Linked DNA regions of Homo sapiens: region 1 is linked to region 2. Evidence: fine-mapped expression QTL. A gene starts in region 2. The other region holds a variant in brackets. All regions are shown on one strand. Distances are from middle to middle.

Region 1 (8,659 bases), 22 kb after region 2:
CTGATCATCTTTAGGGCTCACGCCTGTAGTCCTGGCACTTTGAGAGGACAAAGAGGGAGGATCGCTTGAGCCCAGGAGTTGAAGACCAGGGCAACAGAGTGAGATCCCATTTCCACAAAAAATAAAAAAGATTATCCACGCATGGTGGCATGCACCTGTAGTCCTAGCTACTCTGGGAGGCTGAGGTGGGAGGATCACTTGGGTCCAGGAGGTTGAGGCTGCAGTGAGTTGTGATCATGTCACTGCATTCCAGCTAGTATGACAGAAAAAAACCCTTTCCCAAAAGAAAAAGAAACCACCCCTATTCAGCACTCCCTCTCACCCTTTCCTCACCAGGTAACCTTTGACCTTCCTGCTGATAGATGGCACCACTGGGAGATTTTTCAGTTAGACATTACCAAAATCAAGTCAGTTTGAACTGAATGGAAATACTGTGGCCCATGGGTCTTCTGGGGTGCTCTTTATCCCTCCCCCACCCCCACCCCCACCCATCTCTGGTGGGGCTCATGGTCTCCCGTGATGTCCCAGTGTCTGCAGATGGTTGAGAAGGTGTCCAAGGGAGGCCCAGGTGCAATCCTCCACACCACACCTACAGGTGAAGGAGGCAGCTGCCTTCCAAGCCTGGAGAAAACCCCAGGGGAGGCTCCGATTGCCTGGCTCAGGTCTCAGTTTATCCTTGAGCCAATCACTGCAGCCAGGGGCATCTGTGCTCTGAGCACATGGGTTTCAGACCCTCCCCTGAGTTAGGAGGAGGAGTTCCAGTGTCCTCTCCTGCTCTTAGAGAGTGCAGGTGTGGGCCTGGGGGGCCTTCAGCAACCCAGACCCTGCCATCCAGCCTGGGTTCCCGGCCCCATCTCTCTCTCTGAGGTCCAGAGAGGCCCTCAGGGTGGCAAGAGCTGATCCGCTCACACCCTGCTAGAGTCAGCCAGGGAACCTCACTGGGTCCCACGCTGGGAGCAGGTCCTACAGCTGTTCTTGTGTGTCCTAGTCCCGCTTGTGGCAGTGCCTCAAATCTGATCTCCTCAGGCTGAGGTGGGTCCAAGGTCCTGTTCTCCCGCCTCGTCCTCCACAGAGTGGGAGCTTTCCACTGGGCTGAACATGGCCACGCACGTCCCTAGCACCCCGGCTCCTCGTACCTGACCCCTGGGGCGTGCTTTTGTGCTTCTGGATCCTTCTCGATGTAGCAGAGCCTAGTTTAGGTTACACAGCATGCATCATTATCCCATCCCACCACCCTCCAAACCGACTGTGCCCAGTCATGCCACTGAGCTTGCCTTTCCAAAACTGCCATCTGACAATGTCACTTCCTCTGCTTTAGAAATCTTCCCAAGGCTGCAGACACCGACGGATTTGCTTTGGGAGCCAGAGTAGCTGCCGCCACCAGAGTCCGGAGCCATGAGCGGGTTTAATTTTGGAGGCACTGGGGCCCCTACAGGCGGGTTCACGTTTGGCACTGCAAAGACGGCAACAACCACACCTGCTACAGGGTTTTCTTTCTCCACCTCTGGCACTGGAGGGTTTAATTTTGGGGCTCCCTTCCAACCAGCCACAAGTACCCCTTCCACCGGCCTGTTCTCACTTGCCACCCAGACTCCGGCCACACAGACGACAGGCTTCACTTTTGGAACAGCGACTCTTGCTTCGGGGGGAACTGGATTTTCTTTGGGGATCGGTGCTTCAAAGCTCAACTTGAGCAACACAGCTGCCACCCCAGCCATGGCAAACCCCAGCGGCTTTGGGCTGGGCAGCAGCAACCTCACTAATGCCATATCGAGCACCGTCACCTCCAGCCAGGGCACAGCACCCACCGGCTTTGTGTTTGGCCCCTCCACCACCTCTGTGGCTCCAGCTACCACATCTGGAGGCTTCTCATTCACTGGTGGAAGCACGGCCCAACCCTCCGGTTTCAACATTGGCTCAGCAGGGAATTCAGCCCAGCCCACGGCACCTGCCACGTTGCCCTTCACTCCGGCCACGCCAGCAGCCACCACAGCAGGTGCCACACAGCCAGCTGCTCCCACACCCACAGCCACCATCACCAGCACTGGGCCCAGCCTCTTTGCGTCAATAGCAACTGCTCCAACCTCATCTGCCACCACTGGACTCTCCCTCTGTACCCCTGTGACCACAGCGGGCGCCCCCACTGCTGGGACACAGGGCTTCAGCTTAAAGGCACCTGGAGCAGCTTCCGGCACCTCCACAACAACATCCACCGCTGCCACCGCCACCGCCACCACCACCAGCAGCAGCAGCACCACCGGCTTTGCCTTGAATTTAAAACCACTGGCGCCAGCCGGGATCCCCAGCAATACAGCAGCTGCCGTGACCGCTCCACCTGGCCCTGGCGCAGCTGCAGGGGCGGCTGCCAGCTCCGCCATGACCTACGCGCAGCTGGAGAGCCTGATCAACAAATGGAGCCTGGAGCTAGAGGACCAGGAGCGGCACTTCCTCCAGCAGGCCACCCAGGTCAACGCCTGGGACCGCACGCTGATCGAGAATGGAGAAAAGATCACCAGCCTGCACCGCGAGGTGGAGAAGGTGAAGCTGGACCAGAAGAGGCTGGACCAGGAGCTCGACTTCATCCTGTCCCAGCAGAAGGAGCTGGAAGACCTGCTGAGCCCACTGGAGGAGTTGGTCAAGGAGCAGAGCGGGACCATCTACCTGCAGCACGCGGATGAGGAGCGTGAGAAAACCTACAAGCTGGCTGAGAACATCGATGCACAGCTCAAGCGCATGGCCCAGGATCTCAAGGACATCATCGAGCACCTGAACACGTCCGGGGCCCCCGCCGACACCAGTGACCCACTGCAGCAGATCTGCAAGATCCTCAATGCGCACATGGACTCACTGCAGTGGATCGACCAGAACTCGGCCCTGCTGCAGAGGAAGGTGGAGGAGGTGACCAAGGTGTGCGAGGGCCGGCGCAAGGAGCAGGAGCGCAGCTTCCGGATCACCTTTGACTGAGCGACAGCAGCCCTGGGGCCCGCAGGTCCCTAGGGAGTTCATGAGGGGAATGCGCCCTGTTGTCTGTAGTTTGGGGTTGTGGCAAGATACTTGTTTGTTTGTTTCTTTCTTTCACATGACTGCCCTTGACATGATCGCTGTGTGCTTTGCGTTTTTCCATTTAGGAGGGTATTCTGGGCCTTCTGCCCAGGCAGCAGCCTCATGGGTGTGGCTTCTGTGGCTTTCATTTGAGTATCTTTGGCCCCTTTTCACCTACTGCGACCACCCACCTCATCCTGGCTCAGCCTGGTGATGGAGAAGTGCTGATGGTCTTGGTCCCAGCCAGGGTCGTGGGGGCAGCCACTCTCTCCAAAGCATAGTCATAGGTGTCATGAAAAAATACCAAATGTAAGAGAACCTCCAAGTCAGGGCGCAGTGGCTCACCCCTGTAATCTCAGCACTTTGGGTGGCCAAGGCGGGCAGATGACTTGAGGTCAGGAGTTC[G/A]AGACCAGCCTGGCCAACATGGTGAAACCCCGTCTCTACTAAAAATACAAAAATTAGTCAGGTGTGGTGGACGCCTGTGATCTCAATCTCAGCTACTCGGGAGGCTGAGGCAGGAGAATCACTTGAACCCAGGAGGTGTTGCAGTGAACCAAGATCACACCACTGCACTCCAGCCTAGGCAACAGAGACTCTGTCTCAAAAAAAAAAAAAAAAAAAAAGAAACTCCCAGGAGACAGCAGCCTAGTTTTCGAGTGTGAGCTTGTGCTTGTGAAAGCTAACCATGCTAACCACCAAGGCAAAGCAGCACAGTGTGAATAGAACAGAGCGGGATCAAGAATTTCACAGAAGACAGGTCAGCTGAGGGGCCTGCACACACAGGGTGTTGAGGAACCACAGATGGGCGCCGAGAGGCCTGCCTTTTGCCTGGCCCAGGCTCACCCCCACCTTGGGCCTCACCTCCTCCAGGAAGCCTTCCCAGCTACCCGAAGCTCAGGTGGCCTTCTTGCAGGTCCCCGTAGCACCCTGAGCCTGTACCTTGGGTGGCACTTGTTATGCTATCCTGTGCTAGCCGTTTGTGCCTCGTCTCGCTGTTAGATTGTGAGTTCCCATGGGCAGAGACCCACTGTCGTTCCCCGTGTGTCCCCAGCCCGGTCCCTGTCACATTTGTTAAATGAAAGAACAATGAAGCCCAGTGTAACGTCAGTCCACAGAAATAGCCACAGCTTCCAGTGGTGGCCGTAGACTTGGCTCGGAACTTAGTGGCACCAGAGTAACTCTAGTCAGTTACAGTAAAATCCACTGTGTGTGGAAGGCAGAAGCTAGCGGTTGTATCCCAAGCATCTTTTGTATTTGTCTTTATACTTTGCTGAATTCTCTGAAATACCTATTACTGTATGTTGCTTTTCTAAATAAATGTATTGTGAAACCAAAACAGCTGCTGTTAATATGGATAAATGTTAGGAGGAGAAAGCTGAGTAAAAAGAGCAGGTTCCAGGAGACTCTGCAGGGGTGCCATTCACATGAAACGCACAGGCAAGCAAATGAAGTAGTGCTTGCATAGACATAGGGGTATGCGATGAAGCAGCTTTTGTTTGATGAGACAGAGTAATAGACAAATGCAAATCGTGGTTTGCTCCAGGAAGGGGTGGTGCTAGTGGTAGAAGAGGAACACACGAGTGAAGCCGCCACGGGGAGTGGGCTCCAGGTGTTTTGTGACAGTTATGTCGTAGAATATACACAAATATGGCTGGGCGAGGTGGCTCACACCTGTAATCCCAGCACTTTGGGAGGCCAAGATGGGCAGATCACTTGAGGTCAGGGATTCAAGACCAGCCTGGGCAACATGGTGAAACCCCGTCTCTATAAAAACTACAAAAAAGTTTGGTTGTGCGTGGTGGCACGCAACTGTGGTCCCAGCTACCTGGGAGGCTGAGATGGAAGGATCATTTAAGCCCAGGCCTTTGAGGCTGCAGTGAGCCATGATCACACCACTGCACTCCAGCCTGGGCGACAGAGCAAGACTCTGTCTCAAAAAATATACACACATGTTAAGTCATCTAGTACCATCCCTAAGGCGCTATTCCAGTGGTTACAGATGTCATGGGCAGCATTCCTTCCTGTCACCTGGGGCTAAAGACACGGGCCCAATGCTCTTCCTCCACCCTCCAGCCTCGCTCTATGGACTGGAATGGTCCTAAGCACTCAGATCTCCTGGGCTGTGGGGAGTGGAGTGTACCCCTTTGGCCTCCTGCTGCCTGTTCCATCTCAGTCTGTGGGCAACACTTGGGAGATTCATGGCCCAGGTTCCAAAAGTCTCCCGAAGTCATGATCATGAGTCATTATTTCCTTGGACCGGCCAGGTGCGGTGGCTCACACCTGTAATCCCAGCACTTTGGGAGGCCAAGGCTGGCAGAACACCTGAGGTCAGGAGTTCGAGACCAGCATGGCCAACATGGAGAAATCCCATCTCTACCAAAAATACAAACATGAGCTGGTGGCTAGTTAAGTGGCGGGCGCCTGTAATCCCAGCTACTCGGGAGGCTGTGGCAGGAGAATCGCTTGAACCCGAGAGGTGGAGGTTGCAGTGAGCCGAGATCATGCCATTGCACTCCAGCCTAGGCAACAAAAGCGAAACTTCGTCTCAAATAAATAAATAAAATTTCCTTGCACCATCTTGGGCTCTGGAGGACAAGAGTTGTGTCTAAGTAGAAACCATGGGTGTGTGTGGTGGGAGCAGTAAACCAGAGGAAGACCCCACAACCCAGCTACTTCTCTCTGAAAGCTGTCACCTACAGCAGGGACCTTTTCCTGCAGTTCATAGGCCTTGACTCATATTGTCCCCTCTGCCGGAAGGGAGGCCTTGAGTCCCCTTAGGAGGTAGGAAGCAGTTTGCATTTTACCTACATTTGTGCGTTCAGCATCCATTTTTAGAGCTGATCCTGATCTGGTGCTGGAGGTACCAAAAAATGCCCACAAGGTCGTTGGCAGGGGCCACACAATCATGATGAGAAAATTTGAGCATGTATTTCCAAAGTGTACATGTATATTTTTCCTATTATTTTGCATATTATTTCCTATTTTGTATATTAACCATTAGCAAAGCTTAATTGCTTTCTTATAGTTATATTTTTAAAATAAATTCCAGCTTTGGGAGGCCGAGGCGGGTGGATCACCTGAGGTCAGGAGTTTGAGACCAGCCTGGCCAACATGGTGAAACCCCGTATCTTCTAAAAATACAAAAATTAGGGGCTGGGCACGGTGGCTCATGCCTGTAATCCCAGCCCTTTGGGAGGCCAAGGTGGGCGGATCACGAGGTTAGGAGATCGAGACCATCCTGGCTAACACGGTGAAACCCTGTCTCTACTAAAAATATAAAAAAATTAGCCGGGTGTGGTGGCAGGCGCCTATAGTCCCAGCTACTCGGGAGACTGAGGCAGGAGAATGGCATGAACCCGGGAGGCGGAGCTTACAGTGAGCAGAGATCAAGCCACTGCACTCCAGCCTGGGCAAAAGAGTGACTCCGTCTCAAATAAGTAAATAAATAATACAAAAATTAGCCCGGCGTGGTGGTGGGTGCCTGTAACTCCCAGGTACTCAGGAGAATCACTTGAACCTGGGAGGCGGAGGTTGCAGTGAGCCAAGATCGCGCCACTGCACTCCAGCCTGGGCAACAAAGTTAGACTTCATCTCAAAAAAAAAATTTTAAGTTCTGCATTTTCTTCCCATACCCCAAAGGATCTTGAGCACCCCACTCTGAATAACACAAGTGATTCCATTAAATCAGGAGGCTCTGTGCCCCAAAGCCATGTGAGAAATGGTCCCAACAGGCCTCCTGGGGGAGTCTAGGAGGGATCCCGAGATCGCAGCAGCATCAGCAACCGACTGGGTGCCACCGCGGGTGATGGCTCCATCGTAATTTCAGTTTCCCTTTCCAGGAAGAAAATACACAGATGTGCTTCCTTCCCAGTCCTGACAAATGGCCTTTCCTTAAGTTCCTCATTAATTCATATGAAGACAACACATTTGGTGACTAAATTTGGAATCAGAGGCTTTTAAAGGTGAATCTCAGCTCTTACTGCTTTGCTTTCCCCTGTTTAGGGATAAGAGTGGCAAATGGGGGCTGGGTGTGGTGGCTCATGCCTGTAATCCCGACATTTTGGGGAGGCCAAGGGGAGTAGATTACTTGGGGTCTGGAGTTTGAGACCAGCCTGGGCAACATGGCGAAACCTCGTCTCTACAAAAATACAAAAATTAGCCTGGCGTAGTGGCTCCTGCCTGTAGTTTCAGATACTTGGAGGCTGAGGTGGGAGGATCACATGAACCTGGGAGGCAGACATTGCAGTGAGCCGAGATCGTACCACTGCACTCCAGCCTGGGTAACAAAAGTGAGACCCTGTCTCAAAAAAAAAAAAAAAAAAAAAAAAAACCCAGCACATATAACAGTATAATATGTAGTCAAACCATGAGGGAATGATGACTTTTTATTCTTTTTTAGTAAAAACTAATCATCAATACAATTTATTTTTTAGTAATGAGTGGCTTGCAAAGCAAAAACTCCTGAAAATGTAAATCAGCTCTTATGACCTGGTATGACTCAGCTTCAGCACACCACTGCTCCCAAGTTTTCAGTAAACCCCAAAAATGTCAGGGTGCTTTAAAAATCTGCCCCTCAGACTCAGGGCAGCGGCTCTCCACAGAACCTCCCAGGGAGCAAAGCCCTCACGCTCGGAAGCGAGGTCTGCTTCTTGCACAGCAGCCAGCCCCCCAGCCAGGTTTCAGTGACCCCGGCTGTTCCCCTGCCTGTCCCACAGGACCACACCCTTGGCTTCTGCACACCAGGGCCCTGGTGACTTCAAACACAGTGACCCACATGGGCGCCCTTGTCCCGTCTCCCCTCCAGACACCATCAGGTTGAACCCTCTCAGACGCCAAAGGTTTCCCGAGGCAAGAAGCAGACCGGGTGCGCTGCCGTGATGGGGACTAGCCTGGTGCCCTGGGGTCACCTCAGATACCCTAGTTCCCTTGAATCCACAGAACTGATAGTGACACTTACTGACCAAGACAATGTCACTCAAATGCAATATGGACTGTGATTTGCATCTTGACAAACCAACCGTTTTTTGTTTTGTTGTTGTTTTTTTTTTCAGAGAGTCCTGCTCTGTTGCTCAGGCTGGCGTGCAGTGGTGTGATCTCGGCTCACTGCAATCTCTGCCTCCCGGGTTCAAGCGATTCTCCTGCCTCAGCCTCCTGAGTAGCTGGGACTACAGGCGTGCACTACCACACCCAGCTAATTTTCGTATTTTTAGTAGAGACAGGGTTTTACCATGTTGGCCAGGATGGTCTTGATCTCCTGACCTTGTGATCCACCTGTCTCGGCCTCCCAGAGTGCTGGGATTACAGGCATGAGCCACCACACCTGGCCTTTTTTTTTTGAGATGCAGTCCCGCTCTGTCGCCTAGGCTGGAGTGGCATGATCTCAACTCATAGCGACCTCTGCCTCCCAGGTTCAAGTGATTCTCCTGCCTCAGCCTCCTGAGTAGCTGGGATTACAGAGGTGCCCGCCACCACGCCTGGCTAATTTTTGTATTTTTAGTAGAGATGGGGTTTCACCATGTTGCCCAGGCTGGTCTTGAGCTCCTGACCTCAGGTGATCCGCTCACCTCGGCCTCCCAAAGTACTGTGATTGCAGGTGTCAGCCACCATGCCCGGCCTA
Region 2 (8,000 bases):
GGGGCGGGGCATCTAGGAAGAAGTCTTCCATCTGTTCCAGCTCCTTCTTGAGGAGGGAGGCCATAGCTTCCAGGTCAGGTGGGGTTGGGGAAGGTTGGGGGAGGGTGCCGGGGGGTAAGGGAGGCTCCAGAGGGAGGAGAGCTGTGAAATCAACTCGCTCAGTCATCCAGTCAGAGAAGCCATCACCTGGGATTAAAGTGGGGAGGGACACAAAATTCCCTGAGTTGCTGGTCTTCTGCGTAGTTGGGTGCTGACTCACGTCTCATTCAGGTGCATCTGTCCCATTCATTCAGTAAAACAACTAACCACTGAATCATCAAACCAGTCAATAAACCAACAAACCAGTGAAGAAACCAATAAACCAGTCAACGAACCAACCAACAATCAACCATCTAACCACCCAGTCAACCAACCAACCAACCAACCAACCAATGAACTAGTCGACCAATCAATCAGGGAATCGGTCAACCAACCAAATAAATCAGTCAACCAACCAATCAACCCATTAATCAACCAATGAACCAGTTAACCAAAACCCAACAAATTAGCCAATGAAAGAATCAGTCTTAACCCATAAGAGGGTCCAGGAGAAAAAAAAAATTAAAAAAGAAAAAAAGAACCAGCCAACCAACCAATGACTCAAGCAACAGTCAACCAAGCATTTCTTCAACCATTCCAACATCTCCTTTACCGAGTACTCTGTATCTGTGGTGTCTCTATTCTCTCTTTTTAAAAGGCAAACTAGATCACATTACACACACAGATACACACGCACATATGCCTTGTTTCATCTTTACTCATTAATTATTGAAAACCCACTATGTGCCAAGCATTTGGGATACAGTAATGAATGAAATGATTCCTGCCTCCTGAGGGCTTCTGCATATACAGTTCCCTCCAACTAAAATGCTCTTCCCTTGGGTGTTTTCCTCATTCCTTCCCTACTTTTTTTTTATTTTAAGGGATAGGGTTTCACTCTGTTGCCCAGGCTGCAGTGCAGTGGCATCATCTTGGCTCACTGCAGCCTAGACCTCCCAGGCTCAAGCGATCCTCCCACCTCAGCCTCCCAAGTAGCTGTGACTACAAGCGTGAGCCACCATGCCTGGCTAATTTTTTTTTTCCTATAGATATGAGGTCTCGCTATGTTGCCCACGTCCTGAACTCCTGGACTAAAGCAATTCTCCCCGCTTGGCCTCCCAAAGTGCTGGGATTACAGGCCATCATGCCTGGCTTCCTTCCCATCATTTATGCCTCAGTCAACATGTTACCTACTTGGAGAAGGTTTTCTGGCTACCCATTCTATATTAGGTCCCCTTTGTCATTTTGTAGCTCAGCTGCTAGGTGTTTTTGACTTATTCCAATACACTCTCATTTAATTTATCTCTGGTCTACTCCCCACAGTGTGAGCTGCTGGAAGGCACAGACCATGTTCTTCTTGTTCCCAGCCGTATCCTCAGCACCTAAAACAGTGCCTGGCACATTGTAGGCACTCAATATTTATTGAATACATGGATGAGTTCTTCCTCCCCCATCTTCCCCTGCCCTCCACTCCCCAGCTCCACCTTCCACCTGCCCTTACCTGCCAGGGGCTCTCCCCCCACTGGAAGCCCGCCCTCCAGGGCTCCCCCAAGGACCTCATAGGGAGCCAGGGGGGCAGGGGCCGGGGGGAGTTTCCCATAGTCTACGAGCCATCCCAGCCCACTAGCTGGGAGCAGGGCCCTGTCCAGCTCCAGCCCCAGGGTCGCCAGGAGTGACATGGCTGTAGCACAGGTGCTGGGCACTGATGGCAACAGGAGAGGCTGCACCAGCAGCTGGCACGAGGCTCTGGAGGATGCTCAGGTGGGCGAAGACAGGCACCAAGGCGAAAGTGGAAGACCTACACGCGTGAGACAAGAGTGGGTGTGGTCAGGACAGCGTCATCCACCGGCCAAAATCAAGGGGAAGCCAAGCCACACCCCCAGGCACGTCCATGAGGCTCCTCCCTCCCCCTTCCAACCACCGTTTAGAACACTAAGCCTCAGCCTCTCCGAATTCTAAATTTGCCCTTTCTTTACCCAAATCTCTGAGCCCCACCCACTCCCAAGGGAATTTCTTTAGGTCCTAAAGTAGGACCGATGCCCCACCCCTTCCCCCAATACAGAAAAAAAAAACCTAAAGGTCTCCCAGGGGAATTACCTTAGGCCCCTCCCATCCACCTCAGAATATTTCGCCTCAAGGAAAAACTCAATCCCAGGGACATTTTCTTCCAGCCACGCCCCTTCCTCTAAAATATTTCCTTTTGGCCCCACTGCCTTCCTAGCTTCCATCCCAAACCAGTTCCCAGGGGAACTGCCCCAGGCCGCAGCCCTTCAGCAATGTTATCCACTCAAATCCCACTCCTCGCTCTGCCGCTGCCCCTCCAAGCCCCGCCCCTCATTGTTTATTTAGCTCCGCCCCTCCCCCGATTCCCCAGAGGCCCCGCCTCTTTGTCACATCGAAACCCCACCCCTCAACTAACGGTTGGTTTAGCCCCGCCCCTTCTCACAATGTGCTTCCGAAATCCCACCCATCGTGACGACAGTGGTTCTATCCCCACCCACTTAGAGGGTTGCCTCTGGGTCCCGCCTTCTGCCCTGTCAATCTAAGCCAGTCCCCGCCTCAGCAGGTGCCTGGTTTAAAAGGAAGGAAGCTGGGCTGTGAGCCAGAGCAACGTGGGGCAGGGAGGGTGGAGGAGGGTAGAGGGGGCACGCGGAGAACGGCTACCCGAACGCCACCCGTCCACACGCGGCTCTGCGCCGAGGGCCAAGGCGCATGCTACGTCGCCCGAGCGGTCCAATTGCCTTTACACCTCCGCCCTCTTGGGGATCAATGCGCATGTGCGGCCATTCAGGGTCCGCAGCTCTTTCACTACGGGGCACTGGTGGGCTACTGCGCAGGAACAACCAAGCACGAAGAATCGTTTAGAAAAAAAAAAAACACACCCTCCCCTGGAGTGCTCAGGCCCAGCTGCACGCGGGCTGACAAACATCGAGTCTAGAACTCTCCCACCCGGCCCCGGGCCCAGTGCGCATGCGCAGCCGCGCGCCTTCGGCCCACCGTACTACTTCTGCGCCTGCGCGACCGTGATTCCCCGCTCGCGACTCCCCACCCCCCAGGGCTCCCTAAAGAGGGCCACGAGCTGCGAAAGGGCGGGAAAGGCAGTTGGAGAAGAGGTAAGCGGTTACTCACTCCATGGCTGCAGCAAGGAGAGGCGGCGGCGGCCTCGGCTGAAGAAAGAAGGTGGGAGCGGAGAGCGCAGGCGTGGTGAGCGCGGAGACGGGCCGGGGGCACAAAGGGGTCGAGGCTACAGAGCCATGGCCGGGGCTACGCAGGCAGAGGCGGCGACACTGTAGTGAGAAGAGACTGTGATCCGAGGACAGGGAATGAGGCGGCCCCGGGGACTGGGGACAGATATATACTGGGTGGCGGAGCACGGCCCTCCCGGATCCTTCCGCGCCCCGCCCTCGCGCGGCCCCAACCGGGAGGCAGCCGGGTCCCCTCCTCCTGGGGATCAGGGGATCCGAGCCTTTCCTTCCCACTCCTAGGGTCCGGGACCCTCCTCCCTCTCAGCTGGGGATCCGACCTCTTCCCTCTGAGCCGGGGATCCAGCCCTCTCCTTGTGGCTCCGGGGTCTGGTTTCCTCCTCCTGACTCTAAGCTCTGGTTTCTTTCTCTTTCTGCCTCTGAGGTCTGGGCCTGCTTCCTCCTGTGATTTTGAGGATCCAGCCTCATTCTCTTCCCGCAGACCTGCACCAGTTCATTTCTCTTTCCCTTTCCTTGCTTGCAGAATTTCCTGCCAGTCACTTTTCACTTCTTCATCCCCCAGCTGCTGACTCTGAGAAACCCTCGTGGGTTAGAGTCCAGCATGAGTCACAGCACTCTCCCAAATACAGACCTGCCAGGATGGCCTCGGGCAAATAACTTAAGTTCTCTTACTTCATTTCCCTATCTGTAAAATAAGAAAAATCAACTCGCCTGGTGGGTTTATGAGACTCAAATAAGACGATGTCTGGCAAGCCTTATGCACAGAGCTCAACTCATACATTCCTGTTCAACTGTTTTTTTTTTTTGAGACGGAGTCTCTCCGTCTCTGTCGCCCAGGCTGGAGTGCAGTGGCGCGATCTCGGCTCACTGCAAACTCCGCCTCCCAGGTTCACGCCATTCTCCTGCCTCAGCCTCCCGAGTAGCTGGGACTACAGGCGCCCGCCACCACGCCCGGCTAATTTTTTGTATTTTTAGTAGAGACGGGGTTTCACTGTGTTAGCCAGGATGGTCTCAATTTCCTGGCCTCGTGATCCGCCCGCCTCGGCCTCCCAAAGTGCTGGGATTACAGGCGTGAGCCATCGCTCCCGGCCTCAGCATATTTTATTAATAGGAACTCTGGGGCCCAGTCTCATTTCTTCCTTACCACTTGTAAGAGCCGCAGACGTTGGACTGTCCAACACCTGCTGTCATTCTTCTGTCTCCCTCATCCCTCTAAAGTGTCTGTTTCCAGCTATCCTCATCTTCCATTCCAAATGATGGGTGCCCAGGCCCCATCCCCTGGCAGGGATTCAGACATCGAGGCCCCAGCTGCGTCCTTTTCTCCATCCCTTGCCCTTGGCTTCCTTTCAAACCGTCCTTCAGCTTCCACTGGATAGGAACTATCTCCCAACCCTGCCAAAAATGGAAGATCTCCGTTTTCGTTTAGTCACAGGGTAGCCATCTTGCCCCTTCTCATGCACTGGGCCCTCCTCCACCAGCCGAGGTGGATGTCCGTCTTTTCTCTGTTGCAGAAACCCACCTTGTCCCATCCACATCAGGACATCCCAGCTGGAGTTCAACCTTCATCCCTTCTGTGGCAGTTAGGAGACTGAATCAAGGTCCAGAGAAGGTGGAGGAATCCTGATACTGAGCGGTACACACAAGCTTCTTTCTCCTTCCTTACCTGTTGCGGGCAGGAAGTCCTTCTTGGGATCTGACCACCTTCCCTTAGAGCACTTACTGTCCACTCTGCCAGTTTTTGAGCACTTGCCCTATATTTTCTTGGGCCTATAGGGGCTGTGTTATCACTGAGGCAGTATACAGAGTAGCAGCTAAGAGCATAGACTGAGCTTGTCCCACCCGTGGGCCTGCATGCGGCCTAGAACAGCTTTGAATGCAGCCTAACACAAATTTGTAAACCTTACCAAAACATGCGAATTTTTTGCGATTTTTTTTTAAGTTCATCAGCTATCAATAGTGTATGTTATGTGTGGCCTAAGACAATTCTTCAATGTGGCCCCAGGAAGCCAAATTTTATACATACCTGGCATAGACTCTGGAGCCAGATTATATGAGTTCAAAACTTGACTGCACCCCTCTTACTAGCTGTGTGACCCTGGCCATTTCCCTTCCCTGTGCCTCAGTTTCCCCTGTGGTACGAAGTGGCATTAAGAATACCTACCTCTGGACCAGGCACGGTGGCTCATGCCTGTAGTCCCACCACCCTGGGAGGCTGAGGTGGGCAGATTGCTTGATCTCAGGAATTCGAGACCAGCCTGGGCAACATGGTGAAACCCTGTCTCTACCAAAAATACAAAAAAATAGTCGGGTGTGGTGGTTTGCACCTGTGGTCCCAGCTACTCATGAGGCTAAGGCAGGAGGATCACTTGAACCCTGGGGTGGGGCGGAGGTTGCAGTAAGCCGAGATTGTGCCACCACACTGCAGCCTGGGTGACAGAGTGAGACCTCGTCTCAAAAAAAAAAAAAAAAAAGTACCTACTTCTTAGGGCTGTTACAAGGATTAAATGAGTTAATCCGTGTCGAGCAGTTAGACTAACGCCTGGGACACAGTAGGTGCTGCATAAAAGTGGTTATTGTTATTGCTGTAATTAAGGTGGATGTGTTCTCATTCCATTGCTGTATAGATTTTTGAACAAAAGCAGATGGAATTAAGGGTAGACTGTTGGGCAGACTGCCAGTGGTAAGGACGCACAGACGTGCCCTATCTCCCCCGCCCCGCCGGTAGAATCTTTTCCTACGAAGATCTTCTAGATTGTACATGGGGACTGGGTTTGGTTTGGTTTGGTTTGGTTTTTTTGAGACAGAGTCTTGCTGTGTCGCCCAGGCTGGAGTGCAGTGGCATGATCTTGGCTCACTTCAACCTCCACTTCCCAGATTCAAGCAATTCTCCTGCCTCAGCCTTCCAAGTAGCTGGGATTACAGGCGCCCACCACCACGCCTGGCTAATTTTTGTATTTTTAGTAGAGACGGGGTTTTGCCATGTTGGCCAGGCTGGTCTTGAACTCCTGACTTCAGGTGATCCACCCACCTCGGCCTCCCAAAATGCTGGGATTTACAGGCATGAGCCACCACACCCAGTCTTAAGCAAGACCTAGCTTTTTTTTTTTTTTTTTTTTTTGAGACAGAGTCTCGCTCTGTTGCCCAGGCTGGAGTGCAGTGGCACCGTCACAGCTCACTGCAACCACCGCCTCCCAGGTTCAAGCCATTCTCCTGCTTCAGGCTCCAGAGTAGCTGGGATTACAGACATGCACCATCATGCCTGGCTAATTTTTATATTTTTAGTAGATACAGGGTTTCACCATGTTGGTCAGGCTGGTCTCGAACTCATGACCTCGTGATCTGCCTGCCTCAGCCTCCCAAAGTGCTGGGATTACAGGTGTGAGCCACCGTACCCAAGGGGGTTATTTTTTAAATAAAATTTTTTATTTTGGAATAATTGTAGATTGACTCAACAGAAAAGTTGCAAAGATAATACGGAGAATTTCTGTATGCCCCTCACTTGGTTTTTTCCATTAACATTTTACATTACTTTGCCACATTTGTCACAACCAAGGCAACATCAGTATGTTACCATTGACCAAATGCCATTCTTGATTCTGACCACACTTGATGCTGATTTTGGTAGTTGTTACTTAATGCCCTTTCTGCTCCTTCCGGATGCCTTCAGGATGCCACGTTATATTTAGGCATCATGGCTCCGCAGCCTCCTCTGGCCTGTGACTGGTTTTAGACTTTCCTTGTCCTTCATGACCTTGACAGTTTGGAAAAATGCTGGTTGGGTATTTTATGGAATGTGCTTCCATTTGGTTTTGTCTCAGACTGGGATTGCGGGATATTGAGAGGATGGCCAGGTAGGATGCTATTTTTTTTTTTTTTTGGCTTTTTTTAGTAGAGATGGGGGGGAGGGTCTTACTATGTTGCCCAGGCTGGTCTTGAATTCCTGATTCCTGGGCTCAAACGATCCTCCTGCCTCACCCTCCCAAAGTGTTAGGATTACAAGCCTGAGCCACTGTGCCCGGCCTGGGTTTTTTGTTTTGTTTTGTTTTTTAATTTTTTTGGTTTTTTGAGACGGAGTTTCACTCTTGTTGCCCAGGCTGGAGTGCAATGGTGCCATCTCGGCTCACCGCAACCTCTGCCTCCTGGGTTCAAGAGATTCTCCTGCCTCAGCCTCCCGAGTAGCTAGGATTACAGGCATGTGTCACCACACATGGCTAATTTTGTATTTTTAGTAGAGACGGGGTTTCTCCATGTTGGTCAGGCTGGTCTCGAACTCCCGAACTCAGGCGATCCACCCGCCTCAGCCTCCCAAAGTGCTGGTATTACAGGCGTGAACCACCGCGCCTGGCCCGGTGTGGGTAATTTTTAATAGCTTGGTCAGTAGGAGAATTGCATTGCTGGCTATGTGCGGTTTATGCTGGCTGCAGAGGTGTCTGGGCAGGGACTCTGCTTCCCCTCCCCACCGTTTTGCCGCCTTTTCTCTCTAGCTATTGGGTCCCACCCACTTCAGCCCAGCCAGACTTAGCAGCTGGACTCAGGGTGAGTGGGTGCCAGTTGGCACCCTTAGCTCTCCAGCCCCTCCCAGCCTGTTCTAGTTCATAGCCGGTCATCAGTGGTTGCCTGCGACCCTTCTCCCCAGATCTTCGAACCCTGAGTCCCCTCGTGTGCACATTCCTGACCCAGGCCTGTGGCCCCTTCAGGACTCATGTCCTGGCCTCCCCC

The links. PIP is the estimated chance that this variant, and not a neighbour inherited with it, causes the effect.
Region 1: its variant is fine-mapped to the expression of NUP62 in whole blood (INTERVAL, PIP above 0.99).

The regions. Positions count from the first base shown.
Region 1 is chr19:49,902,544-49,911,202 of GRCh38, reverse strand. NUP62 (nucleoporin 62) reads left to right here. Exons shown (of 3, transcript NM_016553.5): 3 at 1,319-4,378. The coding sequence starts at 1,396. The coding sequence ends at 2,964. It also overlaps a transcript of IL4I1 not described here. Among named protein-coding and RNA genes, the nearest start is that of IL4I1, 10 kb to the right of the region's middle. RefSeq lists a silencer at 749-828 and enhancers at 2,566-3,287, 3,929-4,048. The variant G/A (reference allele first, on the strand shown) is at 3,448.
Region 2 is chr19:49,924,608-49,932,607 of GRCh38, reverse strand. NUP62 (nucleoporin 62) reads left to right here and starts at 3,104. Exons shown (of 3, transcript NM_016553.5): 1 at 3,104-3,282; 2 at 4,793-4,914. ATF5 (activating transcription factor 5) reads right to left here and starts at 3,403. Exons shown (of 3, transcript NM_001193646.2): 1 at 3,208-3,403; 2 at 1,580-1,876; 3 at 1-186. The coding sequence starts at 1,757. It also overlaps a transcript of IL4I1 not described here. RefSeq lists silencers at 2,614-2,663, 3,514-3,573.